Regions from separate parts of the Homo sapiens genome. Here all the other regions are linked to region 4. The links come from fine-mapping of genetic effects on gene expression. A gene starts in region 4. Each other region holds a variant in brackets. All regions are shown on one strand. Distances are from middle to middle. Region 1 overlaps FAM228B (family with sequence similarity 228 member B). Region 2 overlaps WDCP (WD repeat and coiled coil containing). Region 3 overlaps UBXN2A (UBX domain protein 2A). Region 4 holds the start of TP53I3 (tumor protein p53 inducible protein 3).

The links. PIP is the estimated chance that this variant, and not a neighbour inherited with it, causes the effect. A credible set is the group of variants that fine-mapping cannot tell apart.
Region 1: its variant is the best candidate, but not a certain one, in a credible set for the expression of TP53I3 in whole blood (INTERVAL, PIP 0.52).
Region 2: its variant is the best candidate, but not a certain one, in a credible set for the expression of TP53I3 in blood mononuclear cells (TOPMed, PIP 0.59).
Region 3: its variant is the best candidate, but not a certain one, in a credible set for the expression of TP53I3 in whole blood (INTERVAL, PIP 0.86).

The regions. Positions count from the first base shown.
Region 1 is chr2:24,133,048-24,138,530 of GRCh38, forward strand. It overlaps FAM228B (family with sequence similarity 228 member B), which reads left to right. Exons shown (of 11, transcript NM_001145710.2): 3 at 2,072-2,140; 4 at 4,862-5,053. Among named protein-coding and RNA genes, the nearest start is that of FAM228B, 12 kb to the left of the region's middle. The variant C/T (reference allele first, on the strand shown) is at 2,735.
Region 2 is chr2:24,039,727-24,045,209 of GRCh38, forward strand. All of the region lies in intron 1 of WDCP (WD repeat and coiled coil containing), which reads right to left. It also overlaps a transcript of FKBP1B not described here. Among named protein-coding and RNA genes, the nearest start is that of WDCP, 4.9 kb to the right of the region's middle. The variant C/G (reference allele first, on the strand shown) is at 2,395.
Region 3 is chr2:23,947,281-23,952,763 of GRCh38, forward strand. All of the region lies in intron 1 of UBXN2A (UBX domain protein 2A), which reads left to right. Among named protein-coding and RNA genes, the nearest start is that of UBXN2A, 9.6 kb to the left of the region's middle. The variant T/A (reference allele first, on the strand shown) is at 2,608.
Region 4 is chr2:24,082,087-24,087,512 of GRCh38, forward strand. TP53I3 (tumor protein p53 inducible protein 3) reads right to left here and starts at 2,748. Exons shown (of 5, transcript NM_004881.5): 1 at 2,103-2,748; 2 at 799-1,066. The coding sequence starts at 2,240. It also overlaps a transcript of FAM228B not described here. RefSeq lists enhancers at 460-1,390, 1,986-2,085, 2,236-2,285, 3,033-3,533 and a silencer at 2,296-2,475.

The DNA.
Region 1 (5,483 bases), 51 kb after region 4:
CCCAAACTCTGTCTTCTAATTCCTGAACCAGTTAGGCCGCATGTTTCTATCTGAGTTTTAGCCACCTCCTTTACCTCAGACTAAGGCCCTTTCTCAGGCAAGTTAATAAAAAACTGGAAATTCATCTAGTGCTGTTTTTTTTTCTTGGTGTTGAATAGCATTCAGTAACTTCCTGCTTTTTGATCACTCTCCAGTGTCTTCAGGTTGTTGTTTTTTATATTTTTTATCTGGAATGTTAATTCACTACCCCCTATCTGAGTACAGACTTTCCAGGAAGGGCAACTCTATGAGGCAAAAATAACAAAGAAAACAAACTAGAGTAGACTCATTTGAGTTTTCTATGCTTCTAGTTGTTGCTTAGCTCCCATGAGCCTTGGCTTCTTTGGATGTTAATGGGGAAGGACAGTTCTTAGATAATGAGATTTTACTCATCTGTCCTGGAAATAAAAGCAGTGGGACTGAAGACAACTACTTTCACTGACAGTTAACTTGAGAATATTTTATTTGTATGTAATTACATGAGGATCTCAAAGGCAATTCTGTGCTAGAAATCAACTGCTTCCATTTTCTGGCAGGTATTTAATAATTGTGGAACATTTGTTATAAAAATGGAAAAATTAATGCTGTCATAATTTTGTCACTAATATCACTGTTCCCTAAAGATTGTGTTATTTCAAAATCTGAAAATGTGACTTGTATATAAAAATAGGATTTGACTGGGCATGATGGTGGCTCATGCTTGTAATCCTAGCACTTTGGGAGGCTGAGGTAGAAGCATTGCTTGAGCTCAGGAGTTTGAGGGTACAGTGCGCTATGATCATACTACTACACTCTAGCCTAAGTGACAGAGCAAGACTGTCTCCAAAATAAGTACATTAAAAATAAAATTTATTAATATTTATTTGATAGCCATATTCACTAATGATAAATAAATTTGTTCCAATTATATTTATGTCAATACTGTCTAAGAAATTTGTTTCAGTCTTTTGGGTAATTTGTCAATTGTCATGGAAAAATTAAATGAATATGTTTCCTTTTATTTTAATAAGAGCTTTCATTTTGAGAAGATCTAATTACTTGTTTAATTATAATTTTACATTTTATAGACAGTTGTGAGTTAATGGATAAAAATATAACTCATTTCCTTGATTTATTATATCCATAGGCTTATGTTTCAGTAATTTTCAAAAACAAAATTAGTGGGTGAATTCATTATGGAAGAACACGAAAAAGAACAGGAGATTGAATAGAAAGTCTTTCTAAGACCTTGTATTATTGTTCACTAGTGACATTTCTTCTATGTATAGAGTTTGCCTTAGGTGGCACTAAGCTTTTAGTGAAACTGTTGACATATTCTTAACTAGTTCTGTAAGAATCAAGGCTGGAAGATTAGTATGTCTTGCATAGTCAAAAAGCCTCAAATAGAGGCCTAATTTAATCTATTTTAACCCAGAAAAGTAAAAGCATTTTATAGGAAGTGAAAAAAGATGGATTGTAACTACCATGTGACTCTGGAAAAGACATTTGAACATTTTGGGACTCAAAGTGTCTGTGAGCTGAGTTATATTTTGGTGTAGCCAAGAGCAGACAGATCGAAATACTGTTTAAAAAGCACTTGATGGGCTGGGCACAGTGGCTCAGGCCTGTAATCCCAGCACTTTGGGAGGCTGAGGCAGGCAGATCACTTGAGGCCAGGAGTTTGAGACCAGCGAGGCCAACATGGCAAAACCCCGTCTCTATCAAAAACACAAAAATTAGTCAGGCATGTGTTGCACACCTGTAATCCCAGCTACTTGGGAGGCTGAGGCACAAGAATCGCTTGAACCCTGGAAGTGGAGGTTGTAGTGAGCCGAGATGGTGCTGGTGCACTCCAGCAGCCTAGGCGACAGAACAAGACTCTGTCTCAAAGAAACAAACAAAAAAAAGCACTCGATGATATGATTTGGAGGAAACAAACTGCATGCATAGAGAACTTTCCAGGGATATGTCTGTCATGCTAAATATAATGATTCCAGATAGCACTAATAGTTTTTAAAGATTTTCTTTTCAAAGTTTAATTCTGTCCTTTCAGGTTTTAGCTAAAGAAGATACTGAGGCAGCTATTCAATCAATATTATACAAAGAAAATTCTGTAATTAAGGTAAGAATTGGCTACAAAATGCATCTCAGTTAAAAATTAAATGTAGTTTTTCCTTTTTATATGTAGCATATTCTATAAAAACTATTTAGAAAATATGGAAAAAAGAATTAAAAGAACACTCCCTTGCACCTGGAATTAACCTTAAGGGATCTCTGAAATTGCTCTAATGGACTTCCTCCCTTCCTATACTTTGTGGGAATTCCTTTGCAGAGAGGCACAGAAATTTTCCTCTACTCACTTGTTTCTTTGTCTTAGTGGGTTTCAGCAGTCACTATAAATGAGCTAACCCTTAAGAGCTGTTAGCAGAACACACTGACTAATTATTACTCAGATATACATAGAACAGGGTTTAACTGAGCCAGGATGGGCTTAATGTGACAAGAAGAACATCCATGTGAAGTGTACTAAACACCAGGGACACTGGAGTGGGTAACCTGTTTTTATTTTTAAGAAATTTCTTTAGAGCTCTTTAAAAAGGAAAGGAACTAACATTGGGAATGGCTGAAGTGTGCTATGGCCAGAGGTTAGGGAGGGACTCGGCCTAGCAGACCTCTCAGGGTTCTTAATATTTTATTTATTTCATTTTGAATTTCA[C/T]GCTCTTCCTAGTAGTCACATGACTTTATTTGCTATATGAAAGGTGAATGAGAAGGTTTAGTGAGAATGAATTAGTTTGTAGCCTAATCAAGCATCATCTTTGCAGGCTACTTGCCACTTGGATTAGGTTATGCCACACTTCTGCCTCTTTACTCTTGCCTTTTTTTTTTTCTGAAGGTCAGTTATAGTGAAGGGTTTTTTTTTTTTTTTTTTCCATAGAATGTTTTTCTTCCTCTTTTTCTGCCATCCCTTCTCTTCCTGGATAACCCTTCTTTTTTTTTTTTTTTTTTTTTTTTTTGAGACAGGGTCTCACTCTGTCACCCAGGCTAGAGTGCAGTGGCACAATTACAGCTCTCTGCAGCCTTGGCCTCCTGGGCTCAAGTGATTCTCCTGCCTCAGCCTCCCAATTAGTTGGGATTACAGGTGTGAGCCACGGAGCCTAGCTAAGTTTTAATTTTTTTTTGAAACGGAGTCTTACTTCTTTGCCCAGGCTGGAGTGCAATGGTATGATCTCGGCTCACTGCAACTTCCACCTCCCGGGTTCAAGCAATTCTGCCTCAACCTCCCAAGTAGCTGGGATTATAGGCACGTGCCAGCATGCCCGGCTAACTTTTGTATTTTTAGTAGAGACGTGGTTTCACCACATTGGCCAGGCTGGTCTCACACTCCTTACTTCAAGTGATCTGCCCACCTCGGCCTCCCAAAGTGCTGGGATTACAGGCGTGGGATTGCCACTACGCCTGGCCAAGTTTTAATTTTTTTGTAGAGACGGAGTCTGACTATTTTCCCCAGGCTAGACTTGAATTCCTGGGCTCATGTGATCCTCCTGCCTTGGCCTCCTGAAATGCTAGGATTACCGGCGTGAGCCACCGCACCTAGTGTAAATCCTCATTCTTAAAGGCCCAGCCCAAATGTCTCCCACTTTGGGAGTCTTGGCTTTGAAAAAAAATTAATCATTTTTTTCAGTGTATGCGATATAAAAGTAAATATACACAATATAAAATTTGCCATTTTAACCATTTTAAGTGTACCATTCGGTGTCATTAATCACATTCATAATGTTGTGCAACCATCACCACTATTTCCAAAACTTTTTCCTTACTCCAAACTGACAGTTTGTATTCAATAAGCAGTGACTCCTCATTTCTCCCTCCCCCAGGCACTTGGTAACCTCTAATCTACCTTCTGGCTCTATGAATTTTGGCTATTCCAGATAGTTCGTATATGTGGAATCCTGTACTATTTGTCCATTTGTGTCTGACTTATTTCACTTTGGCATACTCTTTTCAAAGTACATCCATGTTGTAGCATGTTTCAGAACTTCATTCCTTTTTGTGGCTGAATAATATTCCATATTACACATATAAATAAATGTGGTATGTATATACCACATTTTATCTGTTCATCTCTTGATGGATACTTGGATCGTTTCCACCTTTTGGCTATTGTGAATAATGCCGCAATGAACATTGGTGTACAAGTATCTATTTGAGCCTGGATTTTCATTCATTTGGGTAGGAGTGGAATTGTTGGGTCTTATGGTAGGTCTGTTTAAATTTCTGAGGCCCACCAAACTGGGAATCTTTTAAGAATCTAGCAAATGGTTTTTCTCTCCTCTGTCTTCAGTTATTTTATTTATAGTATGCCATACATATATCCATCATATATAAATATACATCTTGCTATATTCCCCCTCCCACTGTTTGTGATTTTGTTTGTTTGTTTCTTAGGGATGGGTTTTCACTCTGTTACCCAGGCTAGAGTGCAGTGTCCCAGTCATGGTGTACTGCATCCTTGAAGTCCTGGGCTCAAGTGATTCTCTAGCTTCACCCTCCCAGGTAGCTGGAAATATAGGCAGGCGCCACCTTGCCTTGCTTTTGATTTGTTCTTTAGTCTTTCTCCCCAGGGAGAGCAGGCATGTTGCCCCAAATACCTGTGTTTTCCTTGTTTGCAGCAGAGTGTATGTCACATAGTAGAAGTTAAAGCCAAAGAAACGATTGAATTAATGAATGTCTCTGTGGGTTATTCTTAGGAGTAATTTAAACTTATGAAGTTTAAGTTTTGGAAAATTTTAGAACAAGAAAGCTTTAGGATAATATATTTGTCTTTTCTACCACTGTTTACTAGGAACTAGATAAGTATTTACAACATCATGCCTTCTTAAATGCAAGAAGAAAGGAGATGTTATATAAAAGATGGGTTGACTGTGTGGCAGATCCTCTTCAGAAGAAAATTATAGAAAAAGTTTGCTCACATAAGAAGATTAAAAAAAGGAGGCAAGGGGAATTAGATGGCTTTTTAAAACATGTAAATAAAAAGGTACTAAGAGATCATTTGATGCTTTTTTCAGTTGATTTAGACCTAATGTCATCTTTGTTCATTTATAATCATTCAGTCAGTCTGTCCCTGTCCCCTCTACATATGTATCATCTATACCCTGTTACATAATAGCATAAAGTATTCTTAAACCCAGGACATTTGGAAAGGAGAGAAAAGGAAGATTAGATTTAATTGTCTACATTAGAACCATTTTTCTGTGTTTTCCCCATGTGGTTATTATTATTATTATTCGAGATGGAGTTTCACTCTTGTCACCCAGACTGGAGTGCAATGGCACGATCTTGGCTCACTGCAAACCTCCACCTCACGGCTTCAAGCAATTCTCCTGCCTTAGCCTCCCAAGTAGCTGGAATTACAGGCATGTGCCACCACACTGGCTAATTTTGTATTTTTAGTAGAGACAGGGTTT
Region 2 (5,483 bases), 42 kb before region 4:
ATGAAGATTTTTAGAACTGGGGAAATCTGAGTATGGAATGGATATCAGAAAATATTGTAGAGTTATTATTTTTCTTCTTTTTTTTTTTGAGACGGAGTCTCACTCTTGTTGCTCAGGCTGAAGTGCAATGGCACAATCTCGGCGCACTTCAACCTCTGCCTCCTGGGTTCAAGCGATTCTTCTGCCTCAGCCTCCAGAGTAGCTGGGATTACAGGTGCCTGCCACCAGGCCCAGCTAATTTTTTTTTTATTTTTAGTAGAGACGGGGTTTCACTATGTTGGCCAGGCTGGTCTCAAACTCCTGACCTCAGGCAATCCACCCACCTCAGCCTCCCAAAGTGCTGGGATTATAGGCATGAGCTCCCGCGCCCGGCCAGAGTTATTAATTTTCTTAAGTGTGAACATGGTATTGTGGTTATGCAGGACAAGGTCCTTATTATTTAAATAAGCATGTTGAAGCACTTGGGGTAAAATGTCATGATGCCTACAATGTGCTTTCAAATGGTTTGACAAAAAAAACCCAAATTTTCTATAGACACACAGAAAGAAAACAAATGTAGCAAAATGTTAATAATTGTAGAGTCTAGATTGAGGCTATGTTAGTATTTATGGTACTTTCAACTTTTAAGTTAGAAAATTTTCCAATTAAAAATTTAAGAAAAGTCTCCTCCATCATCTAATTTCTATTCGTCCTTTCACTGCCAAATCAATGAATAACTGATATGCACATCTCTGACTTTATTAGCACTTATTTCAAATCCTTCCAAAGTGGCTTTTATCCCTCTATTGAAATGACACTCAAAAATCACTGTTTCTATTTCTACTTCTACTTCATCTTATTCAACAGCACTTAATAATTTTCAGAACATTTTCACATTCCCTATTGCATTTTATCTTACAATAATCTTTTAAAATAATGTAAAGTAGGTTAGGCAAGTATTATCTTCATTTTTTCACCCTGAATATTTTTCCCCCAGGCATTTGAATCACTAAAGAAGCATATGCTTAGGGCTGGGCGTGGTGACTCACGCCTATAATCCCAGTACTTTGGGAGGCTGAGACGGGAGGATCACCTGAGGTTGGGAGTTCGATCCCAGCCTGACCAACATGCAGAAACCCCATCTCTACTAAAAATACAAAATTAGCCAAGTGTGGTGGTGCATGCCTATACTCCCAGCTACTTAGAAGGCTGAGGCAGGAGAATCGTTTGAACTGGGGAGGCAGAGGCTACAGTGAGCTGAGATCGTGCCATTGCACTCCAGCCTGGGTAACAACAGCGAAACTCCACCTCAAAAAAGAAACAACAACAACAAAAAACAAGTACATGCTTAGGCTGGGCACGGTGGCTCATGCTTGTAATCCCAGCACTTTGGGAGGCTGAGGCGGGTGGATCACCTGAGGTCAGGAGTTTGAGACCAGCCTGGCCAACATGGTGTAACCCTGTTTCTAATAATAATACAAAAATTAGCCGGGCATGGTGGCGCATGCCTGTAATCCCAGCTACTCAGGAGGCTGAGGCAGGAGAATCACTTGAACCCAGGAGGTAGAGATTACAGTGAGCCAAAATTGCACCATTGCACTTCAGCCTGGGCGACAGGAGCAAAACTCTATCTCCAAAAAAAAAAAAAAACTGTTCCCTCCTACTCAGTGCCAGCCCCTTTAGCTCCTCCTCCTTTCCAACATTTCAAAGCCTTGATAAAAGCATCATTAACAATTTGGTGTTTAGCCTCTGAAAATGTTAAAGAAAGACACAAAGATATATAGGATTTTACATGTTATGGCTTTTCTTTTAAACAAAAAATGGGGTAGCCAGGCATGGTGGCTCATAGGCATGAGCCACCCAGCACTTACACCCATTACACCCAAAGTGTAATCCCAGCACTTTGGGAGGCCCAGGCAGGCAGATTACCTGAGGTCAGGAGTTCGAGACCAGCCTGGCCAACATGGTGAAACCCCATCTCTACTCAAAATACAAAAATTAGCTGGGCTCGGTGGCAGGTGCCTGTAATCCCAGCTACTCGGGAGGCTGAGGCTGGACAATTGCTTGAACCTGGGAGGGGAGGCGGAGGTTGCAGTGAGCTCAGATGGCGCCACTGCACTCCAGCCTGGGCAACAAAAGTGAAACTCTGTCTCAAAAAAAAAAAAAAAAAAAAAAAGATACATATAGTCAGTAGGGAGAATAAGGACATTATTTGGATAAGCTGTAATACCTGAATACTCACTTTGAAATATAAACATAAAAAATACTATTTAATGTAAAATGAAAAACTGCCTCAGGAAAATTATATTTTGAAATACTATCAATCAGTGGATACATAAATATATAATAATGGATATAAGAATAAAATGTTGCAATAATAAACACAGACTGAGAAAGACTAATTTTAGTATAAAG[C/G]CTGGGTGTGGCAGCTCACGCCTGTAATCCCAGCACTTTGGGAGCCCGAGAAGGGCAGATCACGTGAGGTCAGGAGCTCAAAACCAGCCTGACCAACGTGGAGAAACCCCATCTCTACTAAAAATACAAAAAATTGGCCGGGCGCAGTGGCTCACGCCTGTAATCCCAGCACTTTGGGAGGCCGAGGCAGGCGGATCACGAGGTCAGGAGATCGAGACCATCCTGGCTAACACGGTGAAACCCTGTCTCTACTAAAAATACAAAAATTAGCCAGGTGTGTTGGCGGGCGCCTGTAGTCCCAGCTACTCGGAAGGCTGAGGCAGGAGAATGGCGTGAACCCTGGAGGCAGAGGTTGCAGTGAATCGAGATCGCACCACTGCACTCCAGCCTGGGTGACAGAGCAATACTCCGTCTCAAAAAAAAAAAAAAAAAAAAAAAATTAGCTGGCTGTGGTGGCGCATGCCTGTAATCCCAGCTACTCAGGAGGCTGAGGCAGGAGAATCGCTTGAACCCGGGAGGTGGAGGTTGCAGTGAGCCGAGATCGTGCCATGGCACTCCAGCCTGGGCAACAAGAGTGAAACTCTGTCTCAAAAAAAAAAAAATTTAGTATAAAAACAATTACTGGGCCAGAGCCAGGCGCGGCGGCTCACGCCTGTAATCCTAGCATTTTGGGAGGCCGAGGCGGGCAGATCACCTGACCATCAGGAGTTCGAGACCAGCCTGACCAACATGGAGAAACCCCGTCTCTACTAAAAATACAAAATTAGCTGGGCGTGGTGGCACATGCCTGTAATTCCAGCTACTCAGGAGGCTGAGGCAGGAGAATCACTTGAACCCAGGAGGCGGAGGTTGCAGTGAGCTGAGATCATGCCATTACACTCCAGCCTGGGCAAAAAGAGTGAAACTCCGTCTCAAAAAAAAAAAAAAAAATTACTGGGCCAGGTGGCTCATGCCTTTAATCCGAGCACTTTGGCAGGCCAAGGCGGGTGGATCACCTGAGGTCAGGATTTCGAGATCAGCCTGGCCAACATGGCGAAACCTCGTCTCTACTAAAAATACAAAAAAATTAGCCAGGAGTGATGGCACACTCCTGTAATCCCAGCTACTTGGGAGGCTGAGACACGAGAATTGCTTGAACCTGGGAGGCAGATGTTACGGTAAGCCAAGATGGCACCACTGCACTGTAGCCTGGACAACAGAGTGAGACTCGGTCTCAAAAACAAAACTAAACAAAATGACTGTTGGCCAGGCACAGTGGCTCATGCCTGTAATCCCAACAATTTAGGAGGCCAAGGCAGAAGGATCACTTGAGCCCTGGAGTTCGAGACCAGAGATCAGCCTGGACAACACAGCAAGATACTGTCTCTACTTAAAACAAAACAAAACAAAACAAAAAACCCCCCAACAATCTACAAACATATATAAAGTGATGTTTAACCTTATTAGTTATCAAATAGTTGTGTAAACTGGCAGTACTCATATTTTTCACCACTCACTCTCTTCTTAATATACTTAAAATGAATTCCATTCCAATTTCTTCTCCAAAACATCTCTCACCAGGCCACCAGTGCTTCCCTGTCACTGAATCTAAATGACATTTTTCAGCCTTGTTTTACTGAGTAAGTGTCAAAGGCAGAACTTGAGAAGTTGTCTTCAGACTCTAAATCCAATGAAATGTATTCTCTACCAACCTGGTGATTTGCTTATCTGTAAATTATTTCGCATATCTCCTTGCTAGCTTTGTCCTTGCTCTTAGGATCTTTCACTTAAAAAAAAAAAGGGTCTATTATGCTTTTATATATGATGTCAGATTCAGTGGTTCTGCAGCGGCTTGCTAAACGGAGAAAAAAGTCCAGTCATTACTAATGAAGAAAACTGTGATCTCTGTCCCACTGGTCTTATGAAAGATAATAATGTTTTCTCCCTAATATCTACTTATGTACTTTAAAAAGAATTTTATTGATAAATAATGCCATGATACACTTTCATGGGCAGAGAAAATTCCTAATGGGCCAATTACATCCAAGTCGATTTATATATTTTAGGATACCAAATTCTGTCTAATGTCAATGAGGGTGTGTGTGGCCAGGGTAGCACAAGACAAGGATTTGGGAATAAGAGAAAAACAAACATAAGTTTACTGAGGTTTTTTTTTGGGGGGGGCGTGGGGGCACAGTCTTGCTCCGTTACCCAGGCTGGAGTGCAGTGGCATGATCTGGGCTCACTGCAACCTCTGCTTCCTGGGTTCAAGTGATTCTTGTGCCTCAGCCTCCCAAGGAACTGGGATAGGGGCCCACCACCATGCCCAGCTAATTTTTATATTTTTAGTAGAGACTGGGTTTCACCATGTTGGCCAGGCTGGTCTTGAACTCCTGACCTCAAGTGATCCTCCTGCCTTGGCCTCCCAAAGTGCTAGGATTACAGGCGTGAGCCACTGCATGGGCCAGTTTACTGAGGTTTTTAGAAGAATGAATTTTAATATTGTCATCTTCGGTAACAAGAAGAAATGTGGCACATTTTTCTCAAAAACGCAGTGATAATTACAAAAATCTGCTCCATTCCTTTCTACTCCTGTGTTAGCCCAGGTTCTGACTTCTCCCTTTTTATTAGGGTAAAACAAGGAGAGGTCCCCTTGATACCAGTCTCTACTTTCCAAATGAGCCTGCATACTATGTGTTGTTGGGCAGAATTATCTTTAAAAAAAAAAAAAAAAAAAAAAAAGCACAGCGGTGATCATTTTGCTCTTCTGCATAAACACCCTTGATGAATCCCCACATCTACAGTATATAAAAAGCCTCAAAATGTCTTAACAAGGCAATTAAAACCTTATATTATCAGATATTGATATATCTTTCTAAGTTTATTCTCTGATCATAAAGGGCATGCTGAGGAATTTGGAATCTTGGGGGAACCAGCATATATTCAAGTAACAATATGCAGAATGGACCTGAGAAGGAAGAAAGTTGACAAGTAATTTGAATGCCACAAAGTGAAAATGAAGCAAGTTTGCAACTATTTCAGTAGAGAAAGAAGGCCATATTCAAGAGATGCTTTTAAGGCAGATGGAATAGACAGTGATATCGATAGGA
Region 3 (5,483 bases), 130 kb before region 4:
TCTTCTCTGTCTCCTGATTGATTTCATCACTGCACTTTTTGGGATAGTATTTGAGAAGATGTTCGGTAAACTGTGATATGCTATATCAATGTAAGATGATGGTGATAGTTGGAAGTAGACCGAAGAAAAATGAAGGCAGTTCTTTTCATCTGTTCATTCTTGTGCCAACTTTATGCTGATAACTTGGATATTTGTCAGATGGCTTTTTTTATTCTCTGCAGTATAGTACATGACTTAGGTTCATTCATGTCATATGACTGTGATACATTTGTAGCAGCTCACTCAATTGATATAAATAAATTTTAGTTGGTTCATTTGCATGTTACTAAATTTATGATAGAAAATGACTGCGGTAATGGTGACTTTGTGGTGTCTCCATGTTAAAATTAATTTTTACATCATAATTCTATGCCATGCTTACAATTAGTAATTCAGTTTGTTTTTTCCTTATTAGTCCATAAAATTGTGCTACTAGAAACTGTCATACTGATACTGACACTTTTGTCATTAGTTTTAAATCAGTGGCTTGCACACATTGGTGGGTGGTTCAATAAGTATATAAAACATTTTTTTTTAAGTTTTTGTTTTTTTGAGATGGAGTTTTGCTCTTGTTGCCCAGGCTGGAGTGCAATGGCGGGGGCTCAGCTCCCTGCAACCTCCTCCTCCCAGCTTCAAGTGATTCTCCTGCCTCAGCCTCCCAAGTAGCTGAGATTACAGGTGCCCACCACCATGCACGGCTAATTTTTGTGTTTTTAATAGAGACAGGGTTTCATCATGTTGGCCAGGCTGGTCTAGAACTCCTGGCCTGAGGTGATCCGCCCGCCTCAGCCTCCCAGAGTGCTGGGATTACAGGCGTGAGCAACTGTGCCGGGCTTTTAAAAAGTTTAATTCGTGAAATCAAAAGTAAAATTTCATAATCATGTCAAAATTAGGACTTTTTAGATTAAGTCTGAAGATGTTTCTTTTTCTTTTTCTTTTTTTTTTTTTTTTGAGACAGAGTCTCACTCTTGTTGCCCAGGCTAGAGTGCAGTGGCGTGATCTCGGCTCACTGCAACCTCCACCTCCCAATTCAAGTGATTCTCCTGCCTCAGCCTCCCAAGTAGCTGGGATTACAGGCATGCGCCACCATGCCTGGCTAATTTTTGTGTTTTTAGTAGAGACAGGGTTTCACCATGTTAGCCAGGCTGGTCTCAAACTCCTGATCTCAGGCGATCTGCCCACCTCGGCCTCCCAAAGTGCTGGGATTACAGGCGTGAGCTTGAAGATGTTTCTTACCAATCTCTATAACAGATTATGGTGGGGGATGAGGAAAGAAAAAGGAGTATAACACTGTTGTATTCTTAGTATCTTCAGTCCTCAGAACAACCTGAGGGGGATAATTATGTCCATGCTATAAGTTAGGCAGCTGGGACTCAGAGAAGCTAAATAACATATACAAGGTCACCTAGCTCAAAAGTGATGTAGCCAGTATTCCAGTAAAACTCAGTTTGAATTTGAGGTCTATTCTATCTTCATTCTCTTTTGCTGTCATAAAACAAGTAAAAGCAATTTGTCAGTACCTTATAACTGTAAAATGATGGAAAAAAGTATTTGTAATTTCCTAGAGAACAATAACCTATTACTGGAAACTCAGTGAAATCCTTTAAGTAAGACTTCTCTTGTAGCTTTTTTTTTTTTTTTTTGAGACAGAATCTCTGTCACCCAGACTAGAGCACATTGGCGTGATCTCCCCTCACTGCAACCTCCATCTCCCTGGTTCAAGTGATTCTCCTGCCTCAGCCTCCCAAGTAGCTGGGACTACAGGCGTGTGCTACCAAGCCTGGCTATTTTTTTTTCTTTTTTTTTTTTTTTTTGTATTTTTAGTAGAGACGGAGTTTCACCATGTTGGCCAGGCTGGTCTTGAACTCCTAACCTCAGGTGATCCGCCTGCCTTGGCCTCCCAAAGTGCCGGGATTACAGGCATGAGCCACCACACCCAACCCTCTTGTAGCTTTTAGAAGAAATTTATTTGCCAGGCATGGTGGCTCACGCTTGTAATCCCAGCACTGTGGGAGGCCGAGGTGGGCGGATCATGAGGTCAGGAGATGGAGACCATCCTGGCTAACACATCGAAACCCTGTCTCTACTAAAAATACAAAACATTAGCCGGGCGTGGTGGCACATGCCTGTAGTCCCCAGCTACTCGGGAGGCTGAGGCAGCAGAATCACTTGAACCCAGGAGGTAGAGGTTGCACTCCAGCCTGGGCAACAGAGCAAGACTTCATCTCAAAAATAAATAAATAAATAATAAAAATAAAAATAAGTTTATTTATAGCCGGGCGTGGTTGCCCATGCCTATAATTCTAGCACTTTGGGAGGCCAAGGCAGGAGGATCACCTGAGGTCAGTAGTTTGAGACCAGCCTGGCCAATGTGGTGAAACGCTGTCTCTACTAAAAATACAAAAATTAGCCAGGCATGGTGGCACATGCCAGTAATCCCAGCTACTTGGGAGGCTGAGGCAGAAGAATCACTTCAACCTAGGAGGCGGAGGTTGCAGTAAGCTGAGACCTCACCACTGCACTCTAGCCTGGGCAACAGAGCAAGACTCTGTCTCAAAAAAAAAAAAA[T/A]TATTTGTATAAATGTGTGGGGTACAAGTATAATTTTGTTACATGGATATATTGTACAGTAGTAAAGTCAGAGCTTTTAATGTATCCATCACTGGAATAATTTCTCATCATCCCCCCACCCCCACCCCCACCCCCACCCCAAGGATCGCTACTCTTTGCTTTGCACTTGCTGCACACTGTGAAGGATACAGGAAATGTGTAAGTCATGGTACTTATCCTCAGCGATGTCAGATCTGGTAAAGAGAGTGAAAAGAAACAGTAATAAGCAATATCACACAATATGATTTAAATGCCAAAAATCTAAATGCTTAGGAGGAGACTATTACTAAGGGTCTAATATTTCATCTTTATGGTGGAAATGGATCTTGAGCTGGGACTTAAAGGATAGTTAGGATTTGAATGCCTAGGACGATGATTACAATGTGAACAAAGTAGTAGAATGAACATGTTATGCTTTTGAGATAATGAAGACCAGATCTAAACTATGGAAATATTTTATTTTATTTTTATTTTATTATTATTATTACTGTTTTTGAGACGGATTCTCGCTCTGTTGTCCACGCTGGAGTGCAGTGGCATGATCTTGGCTCACTGCGACCTCCGACTCCTGGGTTCCAGCAATTCTCCCACCTCAGCCTCTTGGTAGCTGGGATTACAGGCGCCCTCCACCATGCCTGGCTAATTTTTTGTATTTTTAGTAGAGATGGGGTTTCACCATGTTGGCTGGGTTGGTCTCGAACTCCTGACCTCAAGTGATCCGCCCACCTCGGTCTTCCAGTGTGCTCGGATTACAGGCATGAGCCTCTGCGCCTGGCCTATTTTATTTTATTTTTTGAGATGAAGTTTTGCTCTTACGCCCAGGCTGGAGTGAAGTGGCACGATCTTGGCTCACTGCAACCTCCACCCGCCGGGTTCAAGCGATTCTCCTGCCTCAGACTCCCGAGTAGTTGGGATTACAGGTATGCGCCACCACACCCATGCGTGGTTCGCCGTGTTGGCCAGGCTGGTCTCGAACTCCTGACCTCAGGTGATCCACCCACATTGGCCTCCCAAAGTGCTAGGATTACAGGCATGAGCCACCATGCCTGGCCTATTCATTATTTTTTAGTTGACAATAATTTTATATATTTATGGGATACATTGTGGTGTTTCAGTACTTATGTACATTATGGAATGGTCAAATCAGGCTAATTACCATGCCCCTCAGCTCAAATACTTAACATTTCTTTGTTGTGAGAACATTTAAAACCCATTCCTTCTGCTATTTTGAAGCATACAGTATTATTAACTGTAGGAGATTATTTTGAATTAGTTGAAAATAATGTTGGAGAACTGCCAAGTGAAAAACAAACAGCCCCACCAGATTATAATGTCCAAAAGAGCTGGGATCTTTATCTATTTTGTTCAATATGTATCCCAAGCACCTAGAATCATTCATGTCTGATATATAGTAGGTGCTGAATAAGTATACACTTTAGTTATTTTTAACAACTTTCCATCATTATAATTGATATACAGTAAGATGGATATATATATATATATATATATATATATATATATATATATATATATATATAGTTTTGTTTCATTTTGAGACAGTTTTGCTCTTGTCACCCAGGCTGAAGTGCAGTGGTGCGAGCTTGGCTCACCAGAACCTCTGCCTCCAAGGTTCAAGCGATTCTCCTGCCTCAGCCTCTGGAGTACTTGGGATTACAGGCACCTGCCACCATGCCCAGCTAATTTTTGTGTTTTTAGTAGAGACGGGGTTTCACCATGTTGACCAAGCTGGTCTCGAACTCCTGGCCTGAAGTGATCCCCCTGCCTGGGCCTCCCAGAGAGCTGGGATTACAGGCATGAGTCACTGTACCATTTTATTTCTTAAAAAAGAAACAAATGAGTCAAGCTGATCTGAATGGTCAGGGTGGGTGTTTATATTTTTCTCTTTCCTTTGTGTATGTTTGAAATATGTAGACATTTTTAAAGTGAAGCAATTAATTTTAGGAATACTACGTTTGAAGGAAGAAATCTTATGAGAAAACGTTAATGGGCATAGAGTTATGATTTCCTGAAGTTTTTTTCCTTTTTTTTTTTTTTTTTGAGACAGAGTCTCACTCTGTCACCCAGGCTGGAGTGCAGTGGTATGATCTCGGCTCACTGCAACTTCTGCCTCCTGTGTTCAAGCAATTCTCCTGCTTCAGCCTCTCAAGTAGCTGGGACTACAAGCGCTCGCCATCACACCCGCCTAATTTTTGTATTTTTAGTAGAGATGGGGTTTGACCATGTTGGCCAGGCTGGTCTCAAACTCCTGACCTCAGGTGATCCACCTGCCTTGGCCGCCCAAAGTGCTGGGATTACAGGCGTGAGCCATCACACCCGGCTGCTGGGTTTTGTTTTTTAAGACGGTCTCCCTCTGTTGCCCAAGCTGGAATGTAGTAGAATGATCACAGGTCGCTGCAGCCTCAACTTCCTGGGCTCAAGCGATCATCCCATCTCAGCCTCCGGAGTAGCTGGGACTACAGGCATATGCCACCGTGCCGGGCTAATTTATTTTTTATTTTTATTTATTTATTTTTTTGAGACAGAGTCTTTCCCTGTCGCCCAGGCTGGAGTGCAATGGCGCGATGTCAGCTCACCACAATCTCCACCTCCCGGGTTCAAGCAGTTCTTCTGCCTCAGCCTCCTGAGTAGCTGGGATTACAGGTGCGTGCTACCACGCCTGGCTAATTTTTTGTGTCTTTAGTAGAGACGGGTTTCACCATGTTGGCCAGGCTAGTCTTGAACTCCTGACCTTGTGATCTACCTGCCTTGGCCTCCCAAAGTGTTGGTATTACAGGTGTGAGCTACCACACACAGCCAAATTTTTGTATTTTTTGTAG
Region 4 (5,426 bases):
CTGGGCTCAGGTGATCCTCCCAACTCAGCCTCCTGAGTAACTGAGACAACAGGCATGCACCATCATGCCTGGTTAATTTTTGTATTTTTTGTAGAAACAGGGTTTCGCCATGTTGCCCAGGCTGATCTTGAACTCCTGGGCTCGTGATCTGTCTTCCAAAGTGCTACGATTATAGGTGTGAGCCACCTTGCCTGGCTGATACTCTTTCTTAGGCCACCTTGGCATGCCTTATGTCCTTCACAAGTCTACCCACCCTTCAAAGCCTTCCAAAAAGCCTTCTGACTACCCTTGTCCACACCATCTTTACTCATCTCCAGCTTCTATCATAGACAGGGCTATCCTTCTAAACTCTATGGTCATCTGATCTTATGCATATGTTGCCTTCTCAGTTACACTGCACTGTCTAAAGGCAAGGACCAAGTCTTCTTAGATTCCCTTATGTGAGTTCTTGACTGGCCTCTGTGGGATTGAGGAGGAATAAATGAGTCAATTGGTCCCTTCTGTTGCACTGGGACCCCAGAGAGAAGCTCAGTATGATTCTAAGAAGCTGGGACTTCTGCTGGGCGTCCGGTGTTAACATGTACATAGGCCTCCTATCTAGTGTTATCCAGACCCTCTATCTGCTAACCATGATTCTCAGCCTCAACATTAAACCCTTCTAACATGGTTTGAGGACCTGACAATACAGGTGATACAGGAAGGCCTGGGAGTGCCCTGGGGGATTGCTGGGATTCAAGTTGGCTGATTTATGAAGGTGTTGAGCCACATTGTGTGGAGTGAGCATGGAGGCCTCCTCACCCACAAGATGTAACAGCTGGAAGGCGGTGAGCCAGGCCTCTGGGATGGCTGCAGCCTGGGTCAGGGTCAATCCCTCTGGGATAGGCATGAGGAGCCCTTCGGGGACAGTGACGTACTGAGCCTGGCCCCCACCGGGGAGCAGAGCCATGGCTGTGTCCCCGATCTTCCAGTGTCCCTGGCAGCCAGGCCCCAGCTCTGCCACATGTCCAGATGCCTCAAGTCCCAAAATGTTGCTGGCTCCTGGAGGTGGGTCATACTGGCCTTGTCTCTGCAGAGAAAGAAGTGCACTAAGTGGTGAGCATGATCAGAAATCTGTATGTCACTACCCCTGGCCCCCCTTCCAAGATCCCCTCTTTTTTTTTTCAAAAATAAATTTCAGAATGAAGTCAGGTTTTTGTAAGTAAGGAGAAGAAAAAGGAGAGGCCATTAGTTTTATGCAAATAAACTGGAGGTCACATGATCAGTGGATGTTATAACTGGTAGAGTCCTTAGCTATTTACCTCATCTGAACCCCTTGCTTTACAGATGGAGAAACTGAGTCCCAGACGGGAAATAATAGTAGTGGGATTAGGAACCTTGACGATGGTTCCCATGCATCAAGCGCTAGGCTCTGTGCTCACTCACCCCAGTCCTCAGAAGCTGTAGAGCAGAGGGACTTAACCAGGAGTGTGTGGCAGAACCACCTGAGGAGTATTTCAAAGTACACGTGCCTGGGCCCCCATCACGTTTCTTTTGTGCCCCGGGGGATTCTGATGCACATTTCTGAATGACCCCAACCAATGCAGCTGGCCCAGGTCAGTAAATCAGCATCAGACAGAAGAAAATTCTTAAGAGTACTGCCCGCTGTCAGCTCCGGGACTCTCAGAGTGGAAAGAGTTAAGAGGTCTTTGGAGCCACAAAGACCTCAGCTTGAATCCCAGCTCTTCTGATTGCTAGTGTCACGGCCTTGGGCGTACTGCTTAACCTCACTGAACTTCAGTTTCCTTATCTGTAGAATTAAGATGGCGAACAGGGTAGCCTGGGGAGTAAGTGTGCCCACACCCCACAACAATGTTAGTTCCGCCCTCATCTGGAGGCCTGAGTGGCTATGGATTAGCTCGGGGTGGATTCTGCTTTACAAGTACTCCCCCTTGTTTTGCATGAACAAAGAGGGCGCCCTGGGTTTAGGTCTGGGAAGCCCCAGCGCAGCTGCCTGCTGGGTGTGGAGCGGTGCACGCCTTCACGTCTGGTCAATGTCCACTGAGTGCTGTTGAGAGGGAGGCTCTGGAGTCCCGCCCGCCCCGGCGCGGCTGAGCCCTGGGTACCTGCATTAAGTCCGCCCGGTTCAGGGCGCTGGCCGCCACCTTCAGGAGGACTTCACCCTCCCCCGGGCTCGGCTTGGCCACCTCCTTCACGTAGAGGTTTTCCGGTCCTCCCGGCTTGTCAAAGTGCACGGCTAACATATTGTCTGAGGACACAGGGCAGGGCAGGGCAGGACAGGACAGGGCAGGGCAGGGCAGGACAGGACAGGGCAGGGCAGGACAGGACAGGGCAGGGGCCGCTGTATCCTCGCGGAGCAGCCCAGCCTCAGGCTGGCACCGCAGCGCCCCCTGCCGGCCAGCGCCTCGCTGCCCTGGTCTGCCGCGGACCCGGCCTCCGCCCCGAGCTCCTGCCTGGGAAGTCCTCGGCCGCCTCCAGACCGATCCCACCCGGAACACAGATGGGAACGGCGGGAAGTGGGATGGCGGTACAGGGCTGGATGCGGCAGAGCAGGACAACGCCGAAGAGGATCAGGCAAATCACACTCCCTCTGAGTTGGAAGCCCCCAGCCCGACCCGGGTCCCCGGCGCCCGTATGAGTTACTTACTCCTGGCCCGGCTCCCCTCCCATGCACCAGGCGGCGCCGAGTGGTTCTGGCTCCTGCGGGTCCCGGTGACAAAGCCCGAGCCCCAGAGCCCCAGGACTGCCTCTGCCTCCACCGGAATGGACGGCTGGACCTGGGGTAGCCGGAGGGGTGGGGCTAAGCAGAACCACCCTCCCCCTCTTTCCTTTCCTCCTTCCCCCTTTAAAACGCAAAGTTAGAAGCAAGCAAATCAGATTTTCTTGTCCTTTTAGCCTCTGGAAAAGAGTCTTTCTCTCAGCTTGACAGAAAGTGCGATTCTAGCTCTCACTTCAAGGAGAGGAAACTTCCTTCTCTCTAGGGAACGAGACCCAACCTCTTGGCGGGCGGATTGGTCCATTTTCCAGGCATGGCCAGGCTTTTGGCACATTTATGTAACAGGCTGGCATCCCGCCCATCTTGAGCATGGGTGGGCAAGCTGGGTGCTGCTAAGAGAAGAGAAAGGAGCCGTTGGGAGTGGGGGTGGGGAAGGAAGGCAAAACGCAGTCCTGGGATCCTTATCACTCGCCTCCTCCTGACAGTCCTGGGGGAGAGGTTCAGCCCCAGGAGAAGGATGCTGGCGATTGGGTAAAAGCTGTATCCGTAAGCTACATGAAGGTTTCTCAATCTCGGCGCTATTGACATTTTGGACTAGCTAGTTCGTTATTGTAGGAGATCGTCCTGTGCATCGTAGGATGTTTAGCAGCATCCCTGGCCTCCCCCCACTACATATCCGTAGCACTCCTTGTAAATTCCTGTTTTAGTAAGAACCTCCCATCCTTGACATCTGATCACCCTCAATATCTCATCCTCCACCATCCCCCAAGTGATATCCGACCACCCTGGCCTGTCTTCAGTGAGAATCCTGTTAGGTCAGTTTAGATAGAATCCCCCTTACCCCTGATGCCTCTTACCAATTTTCCATCCACTGACCCCCTACACTGCTCCTTGGCTATACATTCCCACTTGTCCGTGATGCATTCAGAGTTGATCCCAACCTGTCTCCTCCACTGCAAGAACTCATTGCAGTGGTCCCTAAACCTGTAGCGATGGTGCTAAATAAAGTCTTCCTTAATGTGCTTTAACAAGTATCATTGAATAATTATTTCTTTAACACAACAGAGCAAAAGCCTATAGAGATGGAAATAATAAAATGATGGGACTTAAGGAAAAATTCAGGAGACCCTGCTATGAGAATAACAGGAATTTTAGGCCGGGCGCGGTGGCTCACGCCTGTAATCCCAGAACTTTGGGAGGCCAAGGCGGGCGGATCACGAGGTCAGGAGATCGAGACCATCCTGGCTAACACGGTGAAACCCCGTCTCTACTAAAAATACAAAAAATTAGCCGGGCGTGGTGGCGGGCGCCTGTAGTCCCAGCTATTCGGGAGGCTGAGGCAGGAGAATGGCGTGAACCCGGGAGGGGGAGCTTGCAGTGAGCCGAGATCGCACCACTGCACTCCAGCCTGGACGACAGAGTGAGACTCCGTCTCAAAAAAAAAAAAAAAAAAGGAATTTTAGAAGGAGGAAGAGGAATGGATGAAGAAGATTCAATAGTTAACCAAATAAAAGAATACAGTTTTCCTAAATTCTACCAGATTATACGGATTGAAAACATTCACTAAAGGATGGATTCATAAGAACAAAAATGCATGCCTATATTTTATAAAATTTCAGGTTCTAACAAGTGTGGAAAGAATAAGTTACTCACAATTGGTTAAAAAAAATGGCTTCCTTCTCTCCCTCCCTCCCTCCTTCCTTCCTTCCCTCCTTCCCCACCCCCTCTTTCTCTCTCTCTCTTTTTTGTAGTGTAGGGGTCTCATTATGTTGCCCAGGCTGGTCTCAAACTCCTGGACTCAAGCAATCCTCCTGCCTCAGCCTCCCAAAGTGCTAGGATTACAAGTATGAGCCACTGTGCCCAGCAAGTTTCTATCTGCAATCTGGAAGCTAGAAGAGAGTAGACTAGCGTCTATTGACTAGAAGAAAAGCACTGTAACTCAATATACCCCATTAAGATATAATTCACTTGTTAGGGCAAAAAACATGTCTGAGGATGTATAAGGATTCAGAGACACATCATCCGGATACACATCTGTCCAAAATCGAGGAAAGGTTTGAACCAAATAAATATCCTAGAACAGAGACAGATGGAAAGGAAATAGTTGTAAATAACAAACTTTGCAAAAATCGACACTAAAACTGATTGGATTAAGAAAATGGAATGGATTAAGATAGATGAGGAATGTGTAATGTAAGTGCTAAATAAGAACTTTTAAGATGCAAGGAGTAACTTTAAAAAAAATCTAATAATACCAACCACTAAGTATACTAAAGTATCCCAGTAAAACTAGTAGTTGAAAGTGCCTAAGATTTTATCTTAGTGAGCCCTTGGTCGATGTAATCTTGCAGTGTGTAATAAGAAATATATATTTTTGGTCTTTGTCCTGGGTTCCTACAATAGCACTCCTAAAACCTTTGTTATTTGCTGAATAAACATCTCTTTCTTTCTTTTGTTTTTAACTAGATATACGGTCTTGCTACGTTGCCCAGGCTGATCATGAACTCCTGGACTCAAGCAATTCTCCCACCTCAGCCTGTAAAGTACTGGAATTATAGGCATGAGCCACTCTGCCTGGCCAATAAGTATCTTTTATTATATTTTGTTCTCCTGCAGAGCTCCTAAAACCCTTGGAATTTCGTATGTGATAGAAGTGACTTTTTATATTAATAACAAACCCTTATAAGCACACTCGAGTTTATGCTAATATGAC